7 linked regions of the Homo sapiens genome follow. The protein of the gene in region 1 interacts with the protein of each later gene in a pairwise test. Each region holds a gene or a part of one and is shown in the gene's direction. Other genes may lie near its edges.

The links.
Region 2: the proteins of COPB1 (region 1) and GTPBP4 interact in binary tests that used the Homo sapiens proteins (3 or more experiments, as listed by UniProt).
Region 3: the proteins of COPB1 (region 1) and NUB1 interact in a two-hybrid assay, tested with the Homo sapiens proteins (one large-scale study listed by BioGRID and IntAct).
Region 4: the proteins of COPB1 (region 1) and IRAK3 interact in a two-hybrid assay, tested with the Homo sapiens proteins (one large-scale study listed by BioGRID and IntAct).
Region 5: the proteins of COPB1 (region 1) and UBQLN4 interact in a two-hybrid assay, tested with the Homo sapiens proteins (one large-scale study listed by BioGRID and IntAct).
Region 6: the proteins of COPB1 (region 1) and ANO1 interact in a two-hybrid assay, tested with the Homo sapiens proteins (one study listed by BioGRID).
Region 7: the proteins of COPB1 (region 1) and KDELR1 come close enough for resonance energy transfer, tested with the Homo sapiens proteins (one study listed by BioGRID).

Annotation. Positions count from the first base shown.
Region 1 is NC_000011.10:14,479,312-14,482,811, reverse strand, and holds part of COPB1 (coatomer subunit beta), read left to right. Parts: intron 1-1,714; coding exon 1,715-1,822; intron 1,823-1,906; coding exon 1,907-2,053; intron 2,054-3,097; coding exon 3,098-3,243; intron 3,244-3,500. UniProt on the Homo sapiens protein: The coatomer is a cytosolic protein complex that binds to dilysine motifs and reversibly associates with Golgi non-clathrin-coated vesicles, which further mediate biosynthetic protein transport from the ER, via the Golgi up to the trans Golgi network.
Region 2 is NC_000010.11:1,012,434-1,015,933, forward strand, and holds part of GTPBP4 (GTP-binding protein 4), read left to right. Parts: intron 1-31; coding exon 32-229; intron 230-1,813; coding exon 1,814-1,879; intron 1,880-3,319; coding exon 3,320-3,463; intron 3,464-3,500. UniProt on the Homo sapiens protein: Involved in the biogenesis of the 60S ribosomal subunit. Acts as a TP53 repressor, preventing TP53 stabilization and cell cycle arrest.
Region 3 is NC_000007.14:151,365,812-151,369,311, forward strand, and holds part of NUB1 (NEDD8 ultimate buster 1), read left to right. Parts: intron 1-1,127; coding exon 1,128-1,314; intron 1,315-2,049; coding exon 2,050-2,157; intron 2,158-2,923; coding exon 2,924-3,076; intron 3,077-3,143; exon of another isoform or gene 3,144-3,500. UniProt on the Homo sapiens protein: Specific down-regulator of the NEDD8 conjugation system. Recruits NEDD8, UBD, and their conjugates to the proteasome for degradation. Isoform 1 promotes the degradation of NEDD8 more efficiently than isoform 2.
Region 4 is NC_000012.12:66,244,714-66,248,213, forward strand, and holds part of IRAK3 (interleukin-1 receptor-associated kinase 3), read left to right. Parts: intron 1-234; coding exon 235-297; intron 298-384; coding exon 385-549; intron 550-2,981; coding exon 2,982-3,458; 3' UTR 3,459-3,500. UniProt on the Homo sapiens protein: Putative inactive protein kinase which regulates signaling downstream of immune receptors including IL1R and Toll-like receptors.
Region 5 is NC_000001.11:156,040,299-156,043,798, reverse strand, and holds part of UBQLN4 (ubiquilin-4), read left to right. Parts: intron 1-885; coding exon 886-1,025; intron 1,026-1,421; coding exon of another isoform or gene 1,422-1,439; exon of another isoform or gene 1,440-1,546; intron 1,547-1,562; coding exon 1,563-1,646; intron 1,647-1,811; coding exon 1,812-1,927; intron 1,928-2,127; coding exon 2,128-2,314; intron 2,315-3,500. UniProt on the Homo sapiens protein: Regulator of protein degradation that mediates the proteasomal targeting of misfolded, mislocalized or accumulated proteins.
Region 6 is NC_000011.10:70,161,817-70,165,316, forward strand, and holds part of ANO1 (anoctamin-1), read left to right. Parts: intron 1-1,466; coding exon 1,467-1,524; coding exon of another isoform or gene 1,525-1,677; exon of another isoform or gene 1,678-1,889; intron 1,890-3,500. UniProt on the Homo sapiens protein: Calcium-activated chloride channel (CaCC). Plays a role in transepithelial anion transport and smooth muscle contraction.
Region 7 is NC_000019.10:48,385,314-48,388,551, reverse strand, and holds part of KDELR1 (ER lumen protein-retaining receptor 1), read left to right. Parts: intron 1-3,238. UniProt on the Homo sapiens protein: Receptor for the C-terminal sequence motif K-D-E-L that is present on endoplasmic reticulum resident proteins and that mediates their recycling from the Golgi back to the endoplasmic reticulum.

The DNA of each region.
Region 1 (3,500 bases):
GTAATCCCAGCACTTTGGGAGGCAGAGGCGGGCACATCATCTGAGGTCAGGAGTTTGAGACCAGCCTGGCCAACATGGTAAAACCCTGTCTATACTAAAAATAACAAAAATTAGCTGGGTGTGGTGAAGTGCGCCTGTAATCCCAACTACTTGGGAGGCTGAGGCAGGAGAATCACTTGAACCCAGGAGGCAGAGGTTGCAGTGAGCTGAGATCGTGCCACTGCACTCCAGCCTGGGCAACAGAGTGAGACTCTGTCTCAAAAAAAAAAAATGTTTTTCTAAAGTGAATCAGTATTATATTTTTTTATCTTTTCGGTTTGTACTGTATTGACTATTCTTAGCGACAGTGACATACTCATTTTAATTTGAATATAATTTACATTTCGTGGAAAATTATTATACCAATTGAGAATAAAAGGTGATCTGATTCTAGAAAATTATCACCATATTTGTTTAATCCATGAGAATAATAATGGTTATAAAAATAAAACCCCATGGCAGGTAAATGCAGTGCTGATCTTGGATCAGAACAACAGCAACAACAAATTTCTATGAAGGACATTATTGGGACAGATTGAGAAATATGAATATGGTGTGTATATTAGTTAATAGTATTGATCAGTGTTAAATTCTCTGATAATTATAATGTGGTTATATAAGAAATTATCCTTACCCTTGAGAGAGATACACTAAAATTATCAGCAGTAAAGAGCAAATGTGGGCCAGGTGTGGTGGCTCATGCCTAAAATCGCAGCACTTTGGGAGGCTGAGGCAGGTGGATCACCTGAGGTCAGGAGTTCGAGACCACCCTGACAAATATGGTGAAACCCTCCCTGTCTCCATTAAAATACAAAAATTAGCTGGACATGGTGGTGTGCAACTGTAGTCCCAGCTACTCAGGAGGCTGAGACAGGAGAATTGCTTGAACCCAGGAGGCAGAGGTTGCAGTGAGCCAAGATCTTGCCACTGCACTCCAGCCTGGGTGACAGAGCAAGACTCCATCTCAAAAAAAAGAAAAGAGCAAATGTGGGAAGATATTAACTGGTGAATGTAGGTGAAGGATATACAGGAGTTCACTCTTAGAACTTTTTTATCAGTTTCGAATTGTTTTTAAGTGTGCATCTTTTAAATGTTACATTTTCCTATGGAGTCAAATAATATCACATTTAACGAAATTGTTAATAATTTATGAATGTTATCTAATACCAAGTCTATATGTAGATTTTCCCAGTTATCCCAAAAGCCCTTTTTGTTTAGTTTGCCCATTTTGTGACCATGTATCGTATTTGGTGGTTATGCCCTTTCAGTCTCTTAATTTTGGACAGTATCTTTTTTTTATGACACTGATTTGTTGAAGAGACCAGACCAGTAATACTATAAAATGCCCCTCTTTCTGGATGTGTATGGCTACTTTCTTACGTTGTTTAGCTTGTTCTTTGACTTCTGTTACTTTCTATAAACTGTAAGTTGGAGCTTTAGCTTTAGCTTGACAGAGTCAAAGTAAACATTATCAGTTTGAATGTGTCATGTGCTATTATTTCATATTGCAGTGTATCAGGAGACCCAAACTATCTAGTTCTTCCACCACTAGTGGTTTTGTTATTGATTAAAGAATTAAAGTGATGATAGATAAACCCCACCATTCTGCAGTGAAGATTTTTTTCCTGTGACCAGAAAGATTGGTGTTAATTCTTGATTTTTTCTTCTTTTTTAGGATCTGGTTATGGATATCCTAAGAGTATTGAGCACACCAGACTTAGAAGTACGAAAGAAAACTCTGCAGTTAGCACTGGATCTTGTCTCTTCTAGAAATGTTGAAGAGGTAAAAGGAAACTCTGACAGCACTTTGTAGCTATCAGGCCCAAATATGATGTAACTCTCACTTATTTTTACTTCATTCTATAAGCTGGTTATTGTCCTGAAGAAGGAAGTGATAAAAACAAATAATGTGTCTGAGCATGAAGATACTGACAAATACAGACAACTCCTAGTGCGAACATTGCATTCCTGTTCTGTCCGATTTCCAGATATGGCTGCAAATGTTATTCCTGTGGTATGTAATTCTGATGACTTTAATTTTGAAATTATCTAAAAGAATTTTTTAAAAAATATAGTTATTTGACAAACTCCAGAAATCTCAGCTGCCTAGAACCATTAAATCTCATGGTGAGAAGTGATCTTTATATCTACCTCTACCTTTAAACTCAGAAGGGTGAGGACTGACTTCTTTCACTTATATATTCATCAAAAAAACAAAAACAGTGACCAAAAAAAAGCTTTGCATATTATTTTAATTGATGATACAGTTACCTAAAGTAAAATTATGCTGTGTATATATATTATTCAGTAAGGCAAATAGGTATTTATTTTAAATAGCTTTAGCTCTTAAAGGAATCAGTTATAGGAAAAATTCACATATGTAGAATATTTTGCTGTCACTGTCAGATAAGTGAGGTATGTTATTATAATTTGATTTTTGCCTTTGAGCTCTTGAGTTCTCTCTAAAATGATTTTAGTTACAATTTAGGAGGATCGAATTCATTTATTTATTTGGAGTTTTGGATCTCTAGCTTATCTTTTATAGTGAATTTTAAAATAAATTTTGCTGCACATAAAATGGAAAAGCCATTGTGACTTTGTTTACATAATAGTACTTGTCTCTCAATTTACATTTTGTTGTGTATTTGAAAATTATTAAGAATTACAAGGGTCAGGCATGGCACTTCATGTCTGTAATTCGAGCACTTTGGGAGGGCTAGGCAAGAGGATTACTTGAGGCCAGGGATTCAAGACCAGCCAGGGCAATATAGGGAGACCCTGTCTCTACAAAAAAATTAATATTAGCTAGGCATAGTGTCATGCCTGAAGTCCTAGCTCCTGGGGAGGCTGAGGCTGCCAGAGGATCACTTGAGCCCAAGAGTTCAAGGCTGCAGTGAGCTATGATTGTGCCACTATTCTCTAGCCTGGGCAGCAAAGCAAGACCCTGTCTCTTAGAAAACAAAAAAAGAATTACATTCTTTTAATTTATTTCTTGTCCTAGATAATTTTCTTTTCGAAAATTGTTAGTTCCATTTTCTTTTTTTTTTTTTTCTTTTAGTTAATGGAATTTCTCAGTGACAACAACGAAGCAGCAGCTGCTGATGTCTTGGAGTTTGTTCGTGAAGCCATTCAGCGCTTTGATAACCTGAGAATGCTTATTGTTGAGAAGATGCTTGAAGTCTTTCATGCTATTAAATCTGTCAAGTAGGTTTAAAATACATTTAAATGTAAGGTCAAGTAAGCATTTTATCAGTTTTTATCTTTAAAGGGTCAGTTGATAGAAAATAGAATGGAGAGGACAATCAAGCCAAAATAAGACAAGTTTGTACAACAAGCATCTCGCTAACTCCACTCTCATTTAGTCTATAATAAATGGCCCAAAATAATTTTTTTAGGAGTGATTTAGCTCAGGGTCTCTATTCTGATTTTCTCTAAAACATTGTGAATCTTAAAGTAACTAA
Region 2 (3,500 bases), on another chromosome or scaffold:
ATTTTGCTTCATTACAACTCCATTTTTAAAGAAATTGGAAGAATTAGAAAAAGAAGAAGAGCTGAGAACAGCTGCTGGAGAGTATGACAGTGTATCTGAGAGTGAAGACGAAGAGATGCTGGAAATCCGACAGCTGGCAAAGCAAATTCGAGAGAAAAAGAAGTTGAAAATTCTGGAGTCCAAAGAAAAGAATACACAGGGACCCAGGATGCCGCGAACTGCTAAGAAGGCAAGTTTGTGTCTTTCCAAAGCAGTGTGATCTAGTTTTTGAAAATTGGATTCCTGTGTGATCATTGCTAAATAACAACTTTTCAACCCATTTATGGCCATAAGATTGCACATTCTTGTTTTATTGGTGTATGGATTTGCAAGATCGCTCACGTATTGATCTTTTATATTCTTTACTGCGTCCTTTCTTGGTGACTTTCAGCTTCGAGTTTGGCACTACTCTAGATCCAGTCATTTTGCAGTTGTACAGATTAAAACTGTAACTTATGGTTCACAGACGTTCAAGGCTATCAGTGAACATTTTCCTCTTCTTTTTTCTCTCTCTCTTTTTTTTAGGGGGGAGATGGAGTCTTGCTGTGTCTCCCAGGCTGGAGTGCAATGGCGCCATCTTGGCTCACTGCAGCCTCCACCTCGCGGGTTCAAGCAATTCTCCTGCCTCAGCCTCCCGAGTAGCTGGGATTACAGGCACCTGCCACTACGCCTGGCTAACTTTTGTATTTTTAGTGGAGATGGGGTTTCACCATGTTGGCCAGGCTGGTCTCAAACTCCTTACCTCAAGTGATCTGCCTGCCTTGGCCTCCCAAAGTGCTGAGATTACAGGCGTGAGCCACCACGCCCGGCTGGTTTTCTTGTTCTTTAATTTCTGCATTAAATCTGGACTCTTTAGGCCGGGCGCAGTGGCTCACGCCTGTAATCTCAGCACTTTGGGAGGCTGAGGTGGGTGGATCACGAGGTCAGGAGATTGAGACCATCCTGGCTAAAACAGTGAAACCCCGTCTCTACTAAAAATGCAGAAAAATTAGCTGGGCGTGGTGGCGGGCGCCTGTAGTCCCAGCTACTCGGGAGGCTGGGGCAGGAAAATGGTGTGAACCCGGGAGGCAGAGCTTGCAGTGAGCCGAGATTGTGCCAGTGCACTCCAGCCTGGGCAACAGAGCAAGACTCCATCTCAAAAAATAAAAAATTTAAAAAAAAATCTGGACTCTTTAGCAATTTACAGAAACCTGACGCAGTCTACAAAAGGCAATTTATTGGCTCTGTGGCAGGGTGGGACTGGGGGAAGAAAGCCCACATGCAGGGCAGTTAACATGTAACCAGAGAAGTCACTTGACATTCAGGATGCCTCTCAGTGGGTCTTCCTGTTTGAATACACTGTTTTCACATGGTGGCAAGTGACTGGTTATGGCGGACTTGGACATTTTTGTACTTCTCCAGGTGGGGCTCAGCCATCTCTGGGAGGAGAGAGGTTGGCGCACTGCCTTTGTCTGAGGCCACCTCACTAACCTCAGCTTTAGTGTCTCACCTCTGATGGAGACGGTCACTCTCTCCCCCGTGTTGCGGTGAAGAATGGACAGACGTGGAGGATACGCTGATTCTTCCCACAGCAACTGCTCTGTTAATGTTAGTTTTCGTGGGATTTAATTGAGCTATCCAAAAACATGAAAGCGGGGCCCAATAAAAATTACAACTTCTAAAATAAGTATATTATAATTGTTGCAAAATATGTATACATATATATTGCCTTGAAGTTTTTTTCAACATTTCATCAAACTAATTTAAAGCTAATATTTCTTTTTATCCTTCTCAGGTTCAGAGGACAGTTTTGGAGAAGGAGATGCGTAGTCTTGGTGTTGACATGGACGATAAAGACGATGTGAGTGTGGGGGCGGTTCATGTGTTTATGTGGCTGGATACACCTTTTTAATAAAGAAAACTGGCCGGGCGTGGTGGCTCATGCCTGTAATCCCAGCACTTTGGGAGGCCAAGGCGGGCAGATCATGATGTCAGGGGTTCGAGACCAGCCTGGCCAACATGGTGAAACCCAGTCTGTACTAAAAAAAATACAAAAAATTAGCCGGGCGTGGTGGCGTGTGCCTGTAATCCCAGTTACTCAGGATGCTGAGGCAGGAGAATTGCTTGAACTTGGGAGGCAGAGATTGCAGTGAGCTGAGATCGTGCCCCTGTACTCCAGCCTGGGCGACAGAGTGAGACTCCATCTCAAAAAAAAGAAAGAAAGAAACCAGGGTTTTGGAAAGCCGTGGGAACGTGGGAAATTACAGCAAAAAGAAATGAGAGCTTCCAGTTTTTCTCTTTTGAGATTCGCTGGCCCTGGGACTGACTTGAAGTGATGGGTTGAGGATTCCCTGACCCTGGGTCTGGGTTGAAGTGGTGGATTGAGGCTGCACTCCAGCCTGGGCAACAGAGCAAGACTGTGTCTCAAAAAAAAAAAAGCTCCACAGCCAGCACGAGACAGCACCATGACGTGCCCAGGGTGTGGCTGCAGACCCTGTCCTCTAGATGTGCAGTCTGCAGTTTCCGTCTGATGGTTTCTGTCTGATGGTTGTCCCTTTGTGTTCATATCAGTAACCCCCAAAATGGGGCAGTGAGGGAGAGAGCATTGTTTATATCTGAAATATAAATTGTGATGCTATACTATAATAATCACTTTTAAATGAGAGTTCTAAGTTTCTTTAAGTGGAGTTAAAATCAGCTTTCTTACGTAAAGCAGCTTCCGTTAAGTGAATAAGAATATTTGACCAACAACTAATGTGAAATTGTTACTAATGTGAACTTGAAATGGTGTCACTAATATGAAAATACTGCGTGTATTTTCAAGACCTTTAGCCCATGTGTTAATGGTTCAGACGCTCCTCTCCTCCCCTCTTGCTGGAGTGACCTCATGCCTGTCGCTGAGCCTGGGTGCGGGGCTGGGGTCCTGAGCTCTGAGCCTGGGAGTGGACCTGGGGTCCTGAGCGCTGAGCCTGGGAGTGGACCTGGGGTCCTGAGCGCTGAGCCTGGGAGTGGGGCTGGGGTCCTGAGCGCTGAGCCTGGGAGTGGGGCTGGGGTCCTGAGCTCTGAGCCTGGGAGCGGGGCTGGGGTCCTGAGCGCTGAGCCTGGGAGCGGGGCTGGGGTCCTGAGCGCTGAGCCTGGGAGCGGGGCTGGGGTCCTGAGCGCTGAGCCTGGGAGTGGACCTGGGGTCCTGAGCGCTGAGCACTGAGCCTGGGAGTGGACCTGGGGTCCTGAGCGCTGAGCACTGAGCCTGGGAGTGGACCTGGGGTCCTGAGCGCTGAGCATTGCTTCCCCTGCTTTGCAGGCCCATTACGCAGTCCAGGCAAGAAGATCCCGGAGCATCACTAGGAAAAGAAAGCGGGAAGACTCTGCTCCCCCGTCCTCTGTGGCCCGGAGTGGGAGTTGCTCTCGAACTCCACGTGACGTTTCTGGTCTTAGGGATGTCAAGGTCAGTCTCTGTGTTGTGTAATGTAATAAAATGACAG
Region 3 (3,500 bases), on another chromosome or scaffold:
GCACCCACAACTGGACTGTGTACATGGGCCCTCTTTAGGAGACTACTGTTTTAAAGAGTAAATGACAAAATTAAAGTCCTTTTTTTTTTATTCCATGCATATTTTGATAGGCAGGACAGGAAGCTTGAGGCCATGTGGATTTTGTAGTTTTATACAAGAGCATTCTTATTTTTAGTAGAACACCAATGAACATAAAGAGAGAAAACCTTGTTCATATACAATGTGTGGTTCCAAATGTTCTTATTGAAGACTTGAGACCTAGATTGGCATTAGGAATTTTTAATGTAATCATAACTTAAAATTAGTCACCTTGATGGCTGTCTTTGTCAGTGCTCCTCCTGGAGCACACTGACTTCTGTTGCTGTCTTTCTTCCCTTTGCTGCGCCTGGGTTCAGCCTGCTGCCACGAATACGGAGTCAAATTTTGCCTGCACACAGGCCCTCAGAAATCAGCTGGGCCGTTAGAGCCTGGTGCTTTCTGGATTGTTTTTCCCCCAGCTTGAATATGATTGAACATGAATGCCTTGTCAGAGCCGTCATCAGCTGAGGCATTCATAGTACGTAGGGATTTTTTTGGTGTCTTTAAAGAAGTGGTGTTCAGCCCTGGCTGTACACTAGAATCAGCTGGGGAGACTCTGGCAGTATAACCACCAGGCCCAACCCCCAGAAATTTCTGTTATGTTTGGTCTGGGTGGGATCAATGATTCTTAAAGAAAGAAAGAAAGAAAGAAAGAACGTTGCTCTGGCCCAGGTGATGCTGATTTGCAGTCAGGATTGGAAGTCACAGCTTTAAAGCATGGTCTTCCCCGTATTTGCTGAGGGCCTCTGAAACAGTGGCCCTGGGTTCTGCTTCCTATCAAGGGGCTGCATGTGTGTCCTGGGGCAAGTGGTGGTAAGCTTTGATTCCTAAGCCCTGATTTCTGATTTCTCTTTCTTTCCCCCATTAGAAGGATGAGATTATAAACACAGCTCCCTTCCTAAACATTAGGATCTCTCTTTTAGAGCAGTCAGCCTTTGAATATATACCAAGAACGGGGAAAGAATTCCAGTCATTCACAAAAAGGTTTCAAATGCTAAAAATGTTTCAAATGCTGCTTGGCAGTGATGTCACTGTCCTTCTCTTTCCAGTGAGTGTTGCAGAGAGCTGCTGGACACAGTGGATAACTACGCCGTCCTCCAGCTGGATATAGTGTGGTGTTACTTCCGCCTGGAACAGCTGGAATGCCTTGATGATGCAGAAAAAAAATTAAACTTGGCCCAGAAATGCTTTAAAAATTGTTACGGAGAAAATCATCAGAGACTGGTCCACATAAAAGTATGTTCCTGGAATTCATCTTATGTCTCGTTGAGTCCATTTCTAGCATTTGTGTTTATTCCTGTTAAAGTATTTGAACTACTGCCAGAAGGTAATTTCATTTTGATAGTAGTATGCAGTATAGTCTTTTTAAACTATATATTTATAAAGTGTTCAATGTTTTACAAATCTGGCTGTCTCTCTTACTTAGCGTGTGAGCATTTAGCCCAAAGGAACATGGTTTGCTAGTCATAGAACCCCATCAGTGATCACCCTGACCAGGAGAGAGCTGCTGACTTCTTTATATCGGTAGAGTCTAATTTGCAAGATGTAAATGCAGAAAATAGACATTTCAGCAGTAATGGTTTACGTGAATGAGTCACAGCTCAAGAGCTGTGGCTCGAGTAAGGATTTTTCTGATTTCCCCAAGTCATCAAAATCCTGCTGATGCAGACTCTCTGATACCTGGTTTGGATTTCTGCATACTTCTCTGCTGACCAGAAGGGCCACTGTGCTGCATGTCTGGAGGCTGGTGCCCTGACACTGACTCTCCTGTGTGGCATGAGGAATGTTATCATACCACAGGGGATGGGGAAGAGGGGGCTTCACTTTTGCCGTCAGTCATAGTGAAGCCATGGACATTTTAATACCTATCATGTTGCCCCTCTGGAGACCAAGGGAATGACAGAGATGAGTATTATAGACCTGTAATTAGAAATAAGGCAATTTTATCCTTTTTTTCTTCAATAATTTTAGGGAAATTGTGGGAAAGAGAAGGTACTGTTTCTAAGACTCTACTTACTTCAAGGGATCCGAAACTATCACAGTGGAAATGATGTAGAGGCTTATGAGTATCTTAACAAGGTAAGAAAAGTAAAGTTGTAACCAATTTTCACCTCCTTTTAAAAAACATTCCCAGAAGTTAAGGATTTTAACTTAGTAGTTTGTGACTTGTGAGAAACATGCCTGTGCTTTCTCCGTGCACAGGAGATGTTGAACCAGAAACATATTTGTATATGTTAGAGTACAGCCAGATGCTGTAATGAGACTTCAAAAAGACAGTGACTTTAATTGGATAGAAGTTTATGGCTCACTCATCTTGCCGTCTAGAGGTGAGCCAGGCCGGAGCAGTGAGCAGCCCGCCAGCCTCAGCGAGGCGTCCTAGGTTGCTCCTGTCAGTGCCTCTTCCAGCCAGCAGAGGGGGCAAGAGAGAGTCCAGAGCAGGCCACTGGAGAGATGACCCCGCAGCTGCACCCAGCGCTGTGGCTGCATGCCATTGACTTCGACTTCACTACCTGGCTACACCCAGCTGCAAGGGAGGGTGAGAAATGCCACGTGCACAGCTGAAATTCGGGGGCTTTTGTTGCAAAAACAAAGTGGTTACCAGTCACTTCTGCAACACCCAGCCTCTTACCTCGTGTTGTGCTGTGGCTAAGTTATGTGAGTAGAGGTAGTGTTGGTCTGTTTCCATTTGTACTTGTTAATAACAGGCCTAGTTTAGAGATTTTATCCAAAATCTGATGCCTTTTAATTCACATTGGATACAATCTAATTTCTTTTAGGCTTTCACTTTGTATTAAGCTTTAAGTATTGCCGTGGTTACATGATTCTTACATTTCCCTGTCTCTAGGCACGTCAGCTCTTTAAAGAGCTATATATTGATCCATCAAAAGTGGACAATTTGTTGCAGTTGGGGTTTACTGCCCAGGAAGCCCGGCTTGGCCTGAGGGCGTGTGATGGGAACGTGGATCATGCGGCCACTCATATTACCAACCGCAGAGAGGTACCCACTTTCACATGCCCTAGCTCTCTTGGGTATGAAAGAACAAAAAAAGATAATCCCACAGGAGTGTTAATAACCAGGAACTCTTTATTACTCCAGATTGGGAAGGAAGGAGAAACTTGTCCTTTTTTTTTTCTTGAGACAGAGTCTCACTTTGTCATCCAGGCTGGAGTGCAGTGGCACGATCTTGGCTCACTGCAAGCTCCGCCTCCCGGGTTCAAGCAATTCTCGTGCCTCAGCCTCCTGAGTAGCTGGGATTACAGGTGTGTGCCACCACACCTGGCTAATTTTTGTATTTTTAGTAAAGATGGGGTTTCACCATGTTGGCCAGGCTGTTCTCAAACTCCTGACCTCAAGTGATGCGCCCACCTCAGTTTCCCAAAGTCCTGGGATTACAGGTGTGAGCCACCGCGCCTGGCCGAAA
Region 4 (3,500 bases), on another chromosome or scaffold:
GAGTTTATTGCCAAGAATGTTCTAGATTCTAAGAATTTTTTAAAGAGTTTTAACTTTTGACTCATTGATTTCCTGTTAGCTCATCTTATATATTAATTTTGTGTAATCAAGCAATTAATAAAATATAAAATCATTAATCAGAATGAACTATATTCATAGTCATGGTTAATAGTTGCAACAAATTGTGTGTATATTTTTAAGATATATAGCTGACTTTCTATATATTCCTTGTAGGTAATAATGGAAGTTCTAACAGGATGTAGAGTAGTGTTAGATGATCCAAAACATATCCAGCTGGTAAGAATTGTTTTCATCCTGGCACCTATCTCTTGGTCATTTTTTGATCAAGTTCTCTGTGATAAAATTGTCTCCCTCTCTTCCAAGCGGGATCTCCTTAGAGAATTGATGGAGAAGAGAGGCCTGGATTCATGTCTCTCATTTCTAGATAAGAAAGTGCCTCCCTGCCCTCGGAATTTCTCTGCCAAGCTCTTCTGTTTGGCAGGCCGGTGTGCTGCAACGCGGGCAAAGTTAAGACCATCAATGGATGAAGTGAGTATATACATGGTTTTATTCAAAACTGAGCCCACAGAACCATGGAAAATCTAAACTAGATAAATTGTGTATCTAAGTGAATTATTTGTTAATGAGACAAATCCAGCCTCCAACAGAGAATTCCAACATAATAGTGTTTCCAGGTCAAAAAGCCACATCATTTGGTACTCTGTTAGAGGTCATTTCTAGGTGGAACCAAGACTCCACAAAAAATTTAATGTAAAGACATAAATGAGCAGTTTGCAGGGAATATTTTATTCAATCTTTTTTTTTTTTTTTTTTTTTTTTTGGAGACAGAGTCTCACTCTGCTGCCCAGGCTGGAGTGCAGTGGCACGGCCCACTGCAACCTCCACCTCCCCAGTTCAAGTGATTCTACTGCCTCAGCCTCCCAAGTAGCTGGGATTATTAGGCACGAGCCACCACGCCTGGCTAATTTTTGTATTTTTAATAGAGGCGGGGTTTCACATGTTGGCCAGGCTGGTCTCGAACTCCTGACCTCAAGTGATCCACCCGCCTTGGCCTCCCAAAGTGTTCAGTCTTCATTAAGAGATCTGGCTCATTATAAATGCAGCATATATTTTCCTTATCCATTTTTTTAAATTTATTAATCTATCCATAGACTTAATCACCCATTCATTTATTTGTTTATTTGCACAAATAAACAAATAATGCCTACTCTGTGTGTGCCAGACTTTGTATTGGGTGCTGGGAATATATCAGTGATCAAGATGCAATGACTACCCTCAAGCTCACTGTTAAGAGGAGTCAGATCAGTAAACATAGAATGTTGGTCCAGCAAGAGAAACATGATGATAGACAGAAGGCCAGGTTGCCGTGGAGCATGAATTCAGAATACACACCAGCCCATGGAAGTTAAGGAAGCTTTTTGATAGATATGACGGTTTAGCTAAGATCTGAAAAACAGGTTGGATTTAGGCAGCAGTAAGGATGGAAAGACATCCCAAGCAGAGAGAATGAATACCTGCAAAGGCTCCAAGGTGATGGAGCCCATGGTGCTAAGACCACAGATAATTCAGCATCATGGAGGGGGAGCAGTGAGGGAAAGCCTGGAGTGGTTAAAATAATAGAAGCTTCCATGACAGAGGGACATGAATTCCATTCTAGGAGTTTGGATTTTATCCTGAGTCTATCATAGAGCCATGCAAGGGTTTTAAACAAGGAGTTGACATAATCAGAATATAAACAGCACTGGCCTTCGAGGCAGGAGAGCTGTATTCCAGGCCTGACACCACCCGTGAGAGTTGTGTGGAGCCAAGGGCTCAGGAAGGAGCTATGACATATATCGTGCAGGGACAGAGAATTGGAAGCCCGGAGATCCGGTGTCAAACAGCAGGTCTGTACCTTACTGACTAATGATACTGCTTCCCTTTTCTGAGCCTCAGGCTTTATCATCTATAAAATGAGAATGATTAATGTTGTTTGTACAGGTTAAATGAGATAATATATGTGAAAGCACTTTGTAAACTGTAAAGCTCTCTATATGTATTTTTTTAATTACGTGTGTGTGTGTATATGAAGGTATGTTGTATGGTGTATTAATTACATCAAGGGTTCTCACATCTAGCTGTACATCCAAATCATCCGAAGCTTCTAACATACAGATTCCTGGACCTTCAACACCTTATGTTTTGAATGACAATCTCTATGTTGGGACCAAGGGATATGCACTTTAAAAGAGCTCCCTAAAACTTCTGGCATTTAGTCAGGGGCCCTGGCTCACGACTGTAATCCCAGCACTTTGAGAGTCTGAGGTGGGTGGATCAGCTGAGGTCAGGAGTTTGAAACCAGCCTGGCCAACATGGCGAAACCCCATCTCTACTAAAAATACAAAAATTAGCTGGGCATGGTGGCACGTGCCTGTAATACCAGCTACTTGGGAGGCTAAGGCAGGAGGATTGCCTGAACCTGGGAGGCGTAGGTTGCAGTTAGCCGAGATTATCCCACTGCGCCACAGCCTGGGCAACAGAGTGAGACTCCATCTCAAAAAAAAACAAAACAAACAAACAAACAAAACAAGAACAACAACAAAAAACTGGCATTTAAGAATTACAGGTTGGGCCCACCATTTCCTTATTCCCTTCCAATCTTCCACATATTATGGTTGAAGTAAAAAATGTAGAGACTTGCCCAAGTTCACAAAGCTAGTTGGTGGCAAATCTGAGGCTTAAGTCAGGTCTCTTGGTATTTACTTTAGTGTAGTTTCTTTTATACCTGGTTTTAAGTCACTTAATTTACTCCTCAAAATAAAGGGCGTTAGCTAATCTTTAAGATCCCTTCTAATTCAAAATTCTATAGCTGAACTAATTTCATGAAAATGAAAGAATATTCTTTATAGGTAGAGTGATAAAAGGTAAAAGGAAAGATTATTCAAACTTAATTTAATGTCTGTTTGCTTCTTTGTTATTAGGTTTTAAATACTCTTGAAAGTACTCAAGCCAGCTTGTATTTTGCTGAAGATCCTCCCACATCACTAAAGTCCTTCAGGTGTCCTTCTCCTCTATTCCTGGAGAATGTACCAAGTATTCCAGTGGAAGATGATGAAAGCCAGAATAACAATTTACTACCTTCTGATGAAGGCCTGAGGATAGACAGAATGACTCAGAAAACTCCTTTTGAATGCAGCCAGTCTGAGGTTATGTTTCTGAGCTTGGACAAAAAGCCAGAGAGCAAGAGAAATGAGGAAGCTTGCAACATGCCCAGTTCTTCTTGTGAAGAAAGTTGGTTCCCAAAGTATATAGTTCCATCCCAGGACTTAAGGCCCTATAAGGTAAATATAGATCCTTCTTCAGAAGCTCCAGGGCATTCTTGCAGGAGCAGGCCAGTGGAGAGCAGCTGTTCCTCCAAATTTTCCTGGGATGAATATGAACAGTACAAAAAAGAATAAATTCTACCAGAAGATAAAGAAAAAAGCAAGTATTGCATAGGC
Region 5 (3,500 bases), on another chromosome or scaffold:
AAGTAATAGCTCATGAGTAAACCAGGCCCCACTTCCTAAGCTCCATGAGCACCTCTGGTATTATCCAGTGTAAAAGGTTCAGACTGCTGTGGGGAGAGGGGGCTGGAGAGGAATCAAGGCAGACCTGGGGAGAGGCAGATGTGAGGCTGGGGGAAAGGGATGTGCAGGGCTTGCCATGTACAGAAGAACAGGTTATGCACTGCACAACCCTAGAGGATGCTCCATTTATCTGGACTATGACTGTACACATGGCCTGGGGGATGTCTTCAGCAGATGCTCTAATTTCTCTGCACTCTGGGGGATATCTTGATTGGGAAAGTTCCTTCCCTCTGTGTGTTTTAGTTTCCTTATTTGTAAAGTAAGGACTGGAACTTGATCCATGATTTTAAAATTGTGCTCCTGCATCCTGGAAAGGTCTTCATCTCCAGGATGAGGAAGGACCCAATGGGAGAGGCTGCAGCCCTCCTGCCCCAGCTCCAGCCAGACCATTAACACACTTGGTTTCTGAGTGAGATTTAGCATGAGGAAAGGGTCTCTGCTGCTAAGACAAGTTTGATCTAGATGATATTTAATCATTTCTTTCCAAATTGGACATAATTTGAGCTTATGGCAGGAACAGTCCAGAGAGGCATAAATCAGACCCAGTTCCTAGCTGGCTTGTCCTTATCAAGTAAATGGAAAAGGGGCCAGGCCAAAGCAGGGCAAGATGACCTTGGACTTGGGAGAGACTTGGACTCATGCCACAATCCTAGGGTGCCCACTGGACCATTGCTTTTCTGAGTTTTGTAGTCATTCGGTGTCTGAAGTAAGGTAGATTGAAGTGAGGCCTTCGGTTTCCATCTGGACCCTTTCTCTCCTGTTTTCTTTTTTTCCGCCTTGTCCTAGGGATGTTCAATAGCCCAGAAATGCAAGCCCTCCTCCAGCAGATCTCTGAGAACCCCCAGCTGATGCAGAATGTGATCTCAGCACCCTACATGCGCAGCATGATGCAGACGCTTGCCCAGAACCCCGACTTTGCTGCTCAGGTATGAAACCAGCATGAGGAGAGTATTGTTGGGGAGAGAGTTCCTCTTGGTTGGGGGCAGTTTCTTGTGGTCAAAACACTGTGGAGCCAGACTGCCTGGGTTTGCATCCCAAGCTCTGCTGCTTCCCAGCTGTGTGAGTTAAGCAAGTTATTTAGCCTCCCAGTTTCTTTATCTGTAAGATGATAATAACAATAGTTCCTACCTCCTATAGTTGTGAGGATTAAATGAGTTAATACACGTTAAGTGCTTAGAACATGGCGTGTGACAGAGTAAGTTCTGTATACCTGGAAATGTTAGCTGTCCTCATCATCATCAGACCCAGGGCTGAGCAGGCTGACTCCTCATACTCTTCATTACCCAGAGCATAGTTCCATTTCCTCTCACTGTCCCACTTAGGCCTTCAGGATACTTTGAGATCCCCGGAGAAGCTGGCCAGATTTCCTGCAGTGGTAGGGGGTGCCCAGGGAGTCTGAGGCTGTGGGGGAATTCTTAGGGTGAAAAGGCCCAGGTCTCCCCCTGCTACCTTCACCCTGGCAGATGATGGTGAATGTGCCGCTCTTCGCGGGGAACCCCCAACTGCAGGAGCAGCTCCGCCTGCAGCTCCCAGTCTTCCTGCAGCAGGTGAGTGAGGAGCCTAGATGGGTGGAGGTTGAGGGCAAGGGGTAGTCCCTGAAGCCCAATGGGTGGAAATGAAGTTGGGGCAGAGCTTGACTCTGGACTCCTAGTTGAGGTTGTCTCCTCTTTCCTGCCACCTCTTGATGCCTTTCTCTGCTTATTTCCCACCAGATGCAGAACCCAGAGTCACTCTCCATCCTTACCAATCCCCGAGCCATGCAGGCATTGCTGCAGATCCAGCAGGGACTACAGACCTTGCAGACCGAGGCCCCTGGGCTGGTACCCAGGTGAGGGTAGGGGGGCAGGAGGGCAGCAAGGTTCTAGCAACTTCTCCCCTTCAACTCTTCTCTCTGCCACTCTCTCAGCATCCTTTGTGTCTCTGAGGGTCTGTTTTCCTGTTTCTTCCAACTGCTTTTCCTTCTGGATCTCACATTCTCATCCCTTTCTTGGATGCCATCTCCTACCTCTTGGTCTCTCTTGCCTACAGCCTTGGCTCCTTTGGGATATCCCGGACCCCAGCACCCTCAGCAGGCAGCAACGCAGGGTCTACGCCCGAGGCCCCCACTTCCTCACCAGCCACGCCAGCCACATCTTCTCCAACAGGGGCTTCCAGCGCCCAGCAGCAACTCATGCAGCAGATGATCCAGCTTTTGGCTGGAAGTGGAAACTCACAGGTACATGAGGCAGTGGGGGCAGGTGCTGGGAGCACCACTTTGATCCTGGGAGGTTTCAAGGGAAGCAATAGAATAGAGGCAGTAGGGCAAGCTTGGGAGTCAGGTCCTGTTCTGCCACTTGCTAGCCTTGGGCAGGTTACTGATGCTCCCTGAGTTCAGTTTGTGCAGATGTGAAATAGAGATGAGAAGAGTAATGGTACTTACCCGTGCACTACATACTGTTCTAAATGCTTTAGATTTTGGAGCTCATTTACGACTCATTTACCACATTCCTCACAATAGCCTCATGAGAAAGCTATTATTATTATTTCTGTGTTAAAGATGGGGAAAACTGAGGCCCGGAAAGGTTAAGTGGCTTACTCACTTACATAGCTAGTAGATAATGAAGCCAAGACTCAAACCCAGGCATTCCACCTCCAGAATTTACACTATACCATTTCTGCTTATATCAAAGGATCCTTTTGATAATTAAAGCAGCCCCCATCTCTGAGACTCTGGGGAGGGGGATTCTGCGAGGTAACCAAAGCCCTGGGAAAGTCAAGGCCAGGGGCTGGCAGGAGGGGCAGGGATGACCTACCTCGAGTGAGCCTCTTAACCTTTCTCTGACCTCTGTGACTCATCTGGAAAAGCCATTCAACCAAAATGTATGTTTACCCAGCTTTGTGCAAGGCACGAGAGAGCTAAACTAGGTGGTGTCCAGTCCAGGTGCAACCCAAGTTAAATTCTGTGGACTGGCTGGGCGCGGTGGCTCACGCCTGTAATCCCAGCACTTTGGGAGGCTGAGGCGGGCGGATCACGAGGTCAGAAGATCGAGACCATCCTGGCTAACACGGTGAAACCCCATCTCTACTAAAAAATACAAAAAAAAAAAATTAGCCAGGCGTGGTGGCAGGTGCCTGCAGTCCCAGCTACTCAGGAGGCTGACGCAGGAGAATGGGGTGAACTCGGGAGGTGGAGCTTGCAGTGAGCCAAGATGGCGCCACTGCACTCCAGCCTGGGTGACAGAGCGAGACTCCATCTCAAAAAAAAAAAAAAAAAAAAAATGTGTGGACTGTGATAAGAAGCAACAAGGAGCACTGGAAAGGGCTTTCTTTTTTTTTTTTTGAGACAGAGTTTTGCTCTTGTTGCCCAGGCTGGAGTGCAATGGCGCAACCTCTGCCTCCCAGGTTCAAGCCATTCTCCTGCC
Region 6 (3,500 bases), about 56 Mb from region 1:
TGGAGCCCAGGGCAGGGCAGACACCGTGGCACCCGCAGCCAAAGAGGGTCAGGGAGAAGGCCTGGGCCCTGCTGAGGCTCCAGAGCAGCGGGACCCTGGGCAGCAGGGAGTCCAGGTGGCAGGGAACCCAGGCAGTGGGGACCCCAGGCAGTGAGGACCGGGGAGTGAGGACCCGGGAGTGAGGGCCCTGGGCAGTGAGGACCCTGGGCCGTGGGGACCCCAGGCAGTGAGGACCGGGGAGTGAGGACCCGGCAGTGAGGGCCCCGGGCAGTGAGGACCCGGGAGTGAGGGCCCCGGGCAGTGAGGACTCTGGGCAGAGAGGACCTCGGGCAGTGAGGACCCGGGAGTGAGGGCCTTGGGCAGTGGGGACCCCAGACAGTGCAGACCCCGGGCAGTGGGGACCCCAGGCAGTGAGGACCGGGGAGTGAGGACCCGGGAGTGAGGGCCCCGGACAGTGGGGACCCCGGGCAGTGGGGACCCCAGGCAGTGAGGACCCTGGGCAGAGGGGACCCCAGGGACTCCAGGCAGTGGGAAGCTCCAGCAGCAGGAAGTCCAGGCAGAGAACCCCAGAAGCCAGCTCCAGGTGCTCCCACGGCAGGTAGGGAGGAGTCCACGTAGGGAGGAGTCCACAAAGTGGGGACAAGGAGAGAGGAGGGTGTGGAAATGCGGCTGCTGGCCACTTGAGCCCTCTTCACAGCTCCTGGAGGAGTGAAACCTTCCACGCCTGGGCCCTCTGGAGCCATCCCAGGCTGCGGTGGGGCCTGCGGCCCACCCACAATGATGCCCCCCACCCCCACCACCACTCCTGCAAGGGACTGGCTGGTCTGATCTCAGAGCCCCCAAAAAGGCTGCCTCCTCCACATCATGTGATTCACCAGTGCCATGCCCGCCCTCCTGGCCCAGGGTCCCAGGGCCCCGCCAAGGGGTCCAGTGCCCCCTGAGCGCATCCAGGATGGAGCAAGCTCTTGGAAGCCTACACGCCCCACACCAGCCCCTAGAAAGCCGAGAGGTTGTCTATCCCCACCCAGGGTGGCCTTTGGCCACCACCTGCCCCAGCTGCCCAAGGTCCCCAGAGTGCTTCTGTGCCAGCTGTCCATGGACCCCACCGTGCCAGCGGCACATCCTGAGTCCCAGGCAGCTAGCGCAGCAGCTTGCAGTCTTCAGGCCGGGTGGTCTTTGCCTTAATCCCCTCCTGGGCCCCTTCCCGCTGCCTCTCAGTCTCGTGGCCTCTCATTGAAGAAGTTCCTTTTTCTGACCCCTCTCTGGGTTTGGGAATCCAACCTTTGACCAATGAAAACCACTGTGGTCATCTTTTAGCAGATGCACCAGGCAGGGAGAGCCGCCTGTAGATACCCTCGAGGCTCAGCCTGCAGGACTCACACGCTGCACAGTCCCCACTTGGGGGTCTCTCCCCGAGCTGAGCCAGGGGCTCATCTTTTCTCTAACGACCTCCCCCATCGTTTCAGGTTTGTTGGACGCCCGGGCGACTACGTGTACATTTTCCGTTCCTTCCGAATGGAAGAGGTAACCGAAATTTTATTCATCTCTGGCAGCCCCTTCTGTCTTGCTTACGATTTGTCTACACCATGCACTTGGGAGAAGCAGCTGCAGCACATTTGTTCAGCAAAGAGCAGCAGGTTTCTTTCCTTCTTGCTGGAAACTTTTCTGTTCCCCTGATGTGGTGGGGTGGGCTTTAATCTTATCTGGTGTGTTCATATAGAATCACCTAGAAGGATAAAGTCGCTGTAGAGTTAATGAAAGAAAAACACAACATCTGGTTTTCTTTTCTTTTTTTGTGAGACTGAATATTTCTCTTCTGGTTAAGATGAATTAATGAGGGACGGGTGCAGTGGCTCATGCCTGTAATCCCAGCACTTTGGGAGGCCGAGACTCGTGGATCACCTGAGGTCAGGAGTTCGAGAGCAGCCTGGCCAACATGGTGAAACCCCATCTCTACTAAAAACGCAAAAAATTAGCCGGGTGTGGTGGTGCATGCCTGTAATCCCACCTACTCGGGAGGCTGAGGCATGAGAATCGCTTGAACCTGGAAGATGGAGGTTGCAGTGAGCTGAGATTTCGCCACTGCACTTCATCCTGGGTGACAGAGCAAGGAACCATTTCAAAAAAAAAAAAAAGAAGATGAATTAATGAGGACAAAACAGAACTTGGCTAACTTTTTTTTTTACTCGACATTGAAATGCTTGTCTCTTTACCCTCAAACACCATGCTGGTGGCATGTGCTTTCTGCCCAGCGATCCTGGCCATAGAAGGTCTGGTTGTGCCAGCCTGGTTCAGCCTCTGTCACGGCCCATGGACTTGCTCCACTGTTTGTCCCACAACCAGGGGCTCCATCAGACCAAGCCGGGGCTTCAGAGCCTATCAGTGGTTCTGGTCTCAGCATTTCCAACCCACAGAGTAATTCAGCTGATCAGAAAATAAGAGGGTGAGTCTTCTTGAAAAAGACCCTGTGGAATAAGATATCGAGGATGGGGTGGACATCAGGTACAGGATTATCTGGCTGTCTGGAGTGCAGCCTAGAGGTTCCACTACCTGAATGCAGGCCCCTGGGCAGCCCAAGACACGGGCCTCCTCCACAGTAATGGGCATCTGCGCCAAGCTTCTGAAATGCTCTTTCCTTTTTACATGATGATCCCCTGTCACACTCGTCCCGGGTCAGAAAGTCATATAATAAAGCAGATGGTGTAATTGCTTTTTCCAAAAGCATGGCTCTCCAAGACAAGTGTAGGGTTTGTTAGGTTTTATTTGGAATGCAGAACAAGTTTACTGTGCCTCAGGGGTCACCATGCATCACTGGTGTTCCCTTTGCTTGGACAAGTTAAACTTCCAGCCCACATAGGTTTCTGACTGTCACCTGCTTGCCGGGTCCCAGGCCTAAGGTGGCAAAGGCCCACTGAGTCAGGGACATTAGGCCTCAGAGGGGTGGCTGCTGCCTCCTGTGGGGCTCAGCCTGCCATGGTGGTGCAGAGCCAGTGGATGCTGACTGGTGCATGGGACCGGCCAGTGGCCCTGGAAAAAAGGAGGCGCCCTGAGGCCCTGCCCCACCCCTGCTTACTCCCTCCCAGTGCGCTCCCCGCTCCCATCCACAGCCCCAAGCACAGCAGCCTGTAGGCGGAGTGTGTCCGTTTCCTGGGGCTGCCGCAACTCGATCCCACAGACTTAAAGTAACAGAGATGGGGGTCTCACAGTTCTGAAGGTCGGAAGTGCAACATCCAGGTGTTAGCCGGGCTGTGTTCCCTTCAAGGGTTCTAGGGGAGGACCTGCCTTGCCTCTCCCAGCTTCTGGGGACTACGGAAGCCCTCATGGTTCCTTTACTTGCCTCTCCACCCTCTGCCGCCATGTTCACGCTGCCTCTTCCCTCTGTGCCCGCGCCTTCTCTTTTTCTGAGGACATCAGTCCTCAGATGGGCGCCCCATCTGAAAACACCCCAGCATGAAAACACCCTGACTTGACTACATTTGCAAAGACCCTTTTTGCAAATA
Region 7 (3,238 bases), on another chromosome or scaffold:
ACCAAGCCAGGTTATTTTTTGTATTTTTAGTAGAGACAGGGTTTCAACATATTGGCCAGGCTGGTCTCGAATTCCTGACCTCAGGTGATCCACTCTCCTCAGCCTCCCAAAGTGCTGGGATTACAGGCATGAGCCACCGCGCCCGGCTCCAAATCTGCTAGTTTCTATTAGCATGATCCCGTGCATGTGACTTGACCTCTCTGTACCTCGGTTTCCACATTTGTAAAGTTGTGATCAGGTCATTGTGAGAATTTACTGAGACTTTGCAGCACTGCCTGGTGTCAAAACACATAAAGACTCTAGAATCAGAGTGTAAGGATTTGGACCCTGCCTCTACCATGTAGCAGCTATGGGATTCTGGGCAAATCACATAACTACCCTGTGCCTCAGTTTCCTCATCTGTAAAATGGAGATAATCAGTTCCTATGTCATAGGGTTCAAATGAGAGGTTGGTATTAATAAAGCACAGTATCTGGGATGAGGTAGGAAGTGCTGTGTCAATCAATGTTCAATGACTGAAGTGTTTAGTCCCATCTCTGATACTTTTACTTTTAAATGTTCGCTGTTAATGATTTTTATTCCATGGTGTTTTGCTGGGACCTGTACAAACTCCTGGGAGGAATTTTGCGAGAGCCAGTGCTAAGTTTGCGATCTCTTGCCTCCTGGGGCCTGGCAGGAATCATAAATTCAGGGTAACCTTTTCTTACCTGTGCCCACTCCTGCCTTATAGGAAGATAGGCCTGGGTGGCCAGATGTGCTGATCTTTTCAACAGAAGCCATAATTCAGGAGTTTTCAGGCAAGATGTCTCATTTTAAAATTTTAGCCACAGATTCAGACTATATTTCTTTTTTTTTTTTTTTTTTCTTTTTTGAGATGGACTCTCATTCTGTCGCCCAGGCTGGAGTGCAGTGGCACGATCTTGGCTCACTGCAACCTCTGCCTCCCAGGTCAAGCGTTTCTCCTGCCTCAGCCTCCCGAGTAGCTGGGATTACAGGTGCTTGCCACCACGCCTGGCTAATTTTTGTGTTTCTAGTAGAGATGGGGTTTCACCATGTTGACAGGCTGGTCTTGAACTCCTGGTCTTAAGCAATTCTCCCATCTCAGCTTCCCAAAGTGCTAGGATTACAGGCATGAGCCACCGTGCCTGGCCTTCAAAACATATCTCTAAAAGCACTGTATAGGCCAGACAAATCCAACAGAGGGTGACTTTGGCCCATGGGTCAGAGATATCAGAGGGAGGCTGCATCATGCTGTGGTGGGAATCCTGGGCTTGGCTCCAGGCCCTGGACTTTGCAAACATATTGTTACCACCTTGCTTGGATCACTTATCCAAGCCCTTGACTTAGCTCATAACTGCCCTGTTGACTAGGGATTACTAGACCCATTTTGAAGATGGGGAGACTGAGGCTGAGGGAGGTAGTGCGGCTTGCTGAAGGTGGAGGAGGCCAGACCAGAACCCAGGCGTCTTTTTTTTTTTTTTTTTTTTAAGTCTTGCTGTGTCACCCAGACTGGAGTGCAGTGGCACGATCTCTGCTCACTGCAACCTCTGCCTCCCAGGTTCAAGCAATTCTCGTGCCTCAGCGTCCCGAGTAGCTGGGATTACAGGCATGAGCCACCACACCCAGGTAAAATTTTTTTGTATTTTTAGGAGAGACAGGGTTTTGCTATGTTGACCAGGGTGATCTTGAACTCCTGGCCTCAAGTGATCCACCTGCCTCAGCCTTCCAAAGTGCTGGGATTACAGGTGTGAGCTGCCGTGCCTGACCTAAGGAAAATATTCTTTAAAAATTCAGACATCAGGCTGGGCGCAGTGGCTCACGCCTGAATCCCAGCACTTTGGGAGGCTGAGACAGGTGGATCGTGGATCACGAGGTCAGGGGTTCAAGACCAGCCTGGCCAAGATGCTGAAACCCCCTGTCTATTAAAAATACAAAAATTAGCCGGGCATGGTGGCATGCACCTGTAATCCCAGCTACTCGGGAAGCTGAGGCAGGAGAATCACTTGAACCCGGGCAGCAGAGGTTGCAGTGAGCTGAGATCGTGCTACTGTACTCCAGCCTGGGTGACAGAGCAAGACGCCATCTCAAAAAAAAAAAAAAAAAATTCAAACAGCATGGAATAGATAAAAATGCAAGACTGGGCGCAGTGGCTCACGCCTGTGATCCCAGCACTTTGGGAGGGTGAGGTGGGTGGATCACTTGAGGTGAGGAGTTCAAGACCAGCCTGGCCAACATGGTGAAACCCTGTCTTTACTAAAAAAATACAAAAATTAGCAGGGCGTGGTGGTGAGTGCCTATAATTCCAGCCACTTGGGAGGTTAAGGCAGGAGAATCACTTGAACCCGTGAGGTGGAGGTTTGCAGTGAGCCGAGATCGCGCCACTGCACTCCAGCCTGGGTGACAAGAGTGAAACTCGGCCTCAGGAAAAAAAAAAAAAAAAAGCAACAGACCTTCTGTCTCTCTTTAAACGGTGACTCTGTTCCCTAAGGGCAACCCCAGGGGTGAGAGTTGAATGGGCATCAATTTAATGGGTTCGTTTCCCAGCAGCATCAACTAACCTGGCTTCACGAGAGCCTCCCTGGAGGATTCTGGATGATTCTGGGAGCAGGTCCTGGACTCTACGTGCTTCAGTGGGAATCTGGACACGTTTCTTATCCTTTGGGCCTCAGTTTCCTCATCTGTAGAATGGGAATGACAACAGTACCTACCTCATGGGGTTAAGGCTCAGGCCAGTTAACACCCTAAGGAGCGATGCCTTGGATGTCGTAAATGCTAGAAAAGCATGAGTTGTTATGAATAGGTCCTGGTGCCCCCCACCTTCCTTCCACAAACCAAGACAACCAAGGAGCCACACCTGCCACCTGGCTTTGCTCTCTGAGGTTTCAGTGTGTCTGCAGATCACAGATCACCCCAGGTGGCACTTTCAGGGAGCTGGGGACTGAAAGGGGGCTGGCAGATGTCTTCTTCCCTGTCCCATGATGTCCTGTCCTGCTCATGAATGATGGTTGTCAGTGCTCCCTAAATGGTGGCCTGTGCTGAGCACATGGGGACCCCTTTATAGATGCTAACTCCCATTTCCTCACTCATTCAGGAACTGTGCTAGGTGCTAGGGCCACGGGGTGAACAAGAAGTAGGATCCCAGCCCTCACAGAGCTCAATTGCTGGTGCGAGTGGCCAGGAAGGAGATAAGATGGGGTGATGTGACAGTCCTGGGGGAAGGATGGCCAGGGAGGGTCCC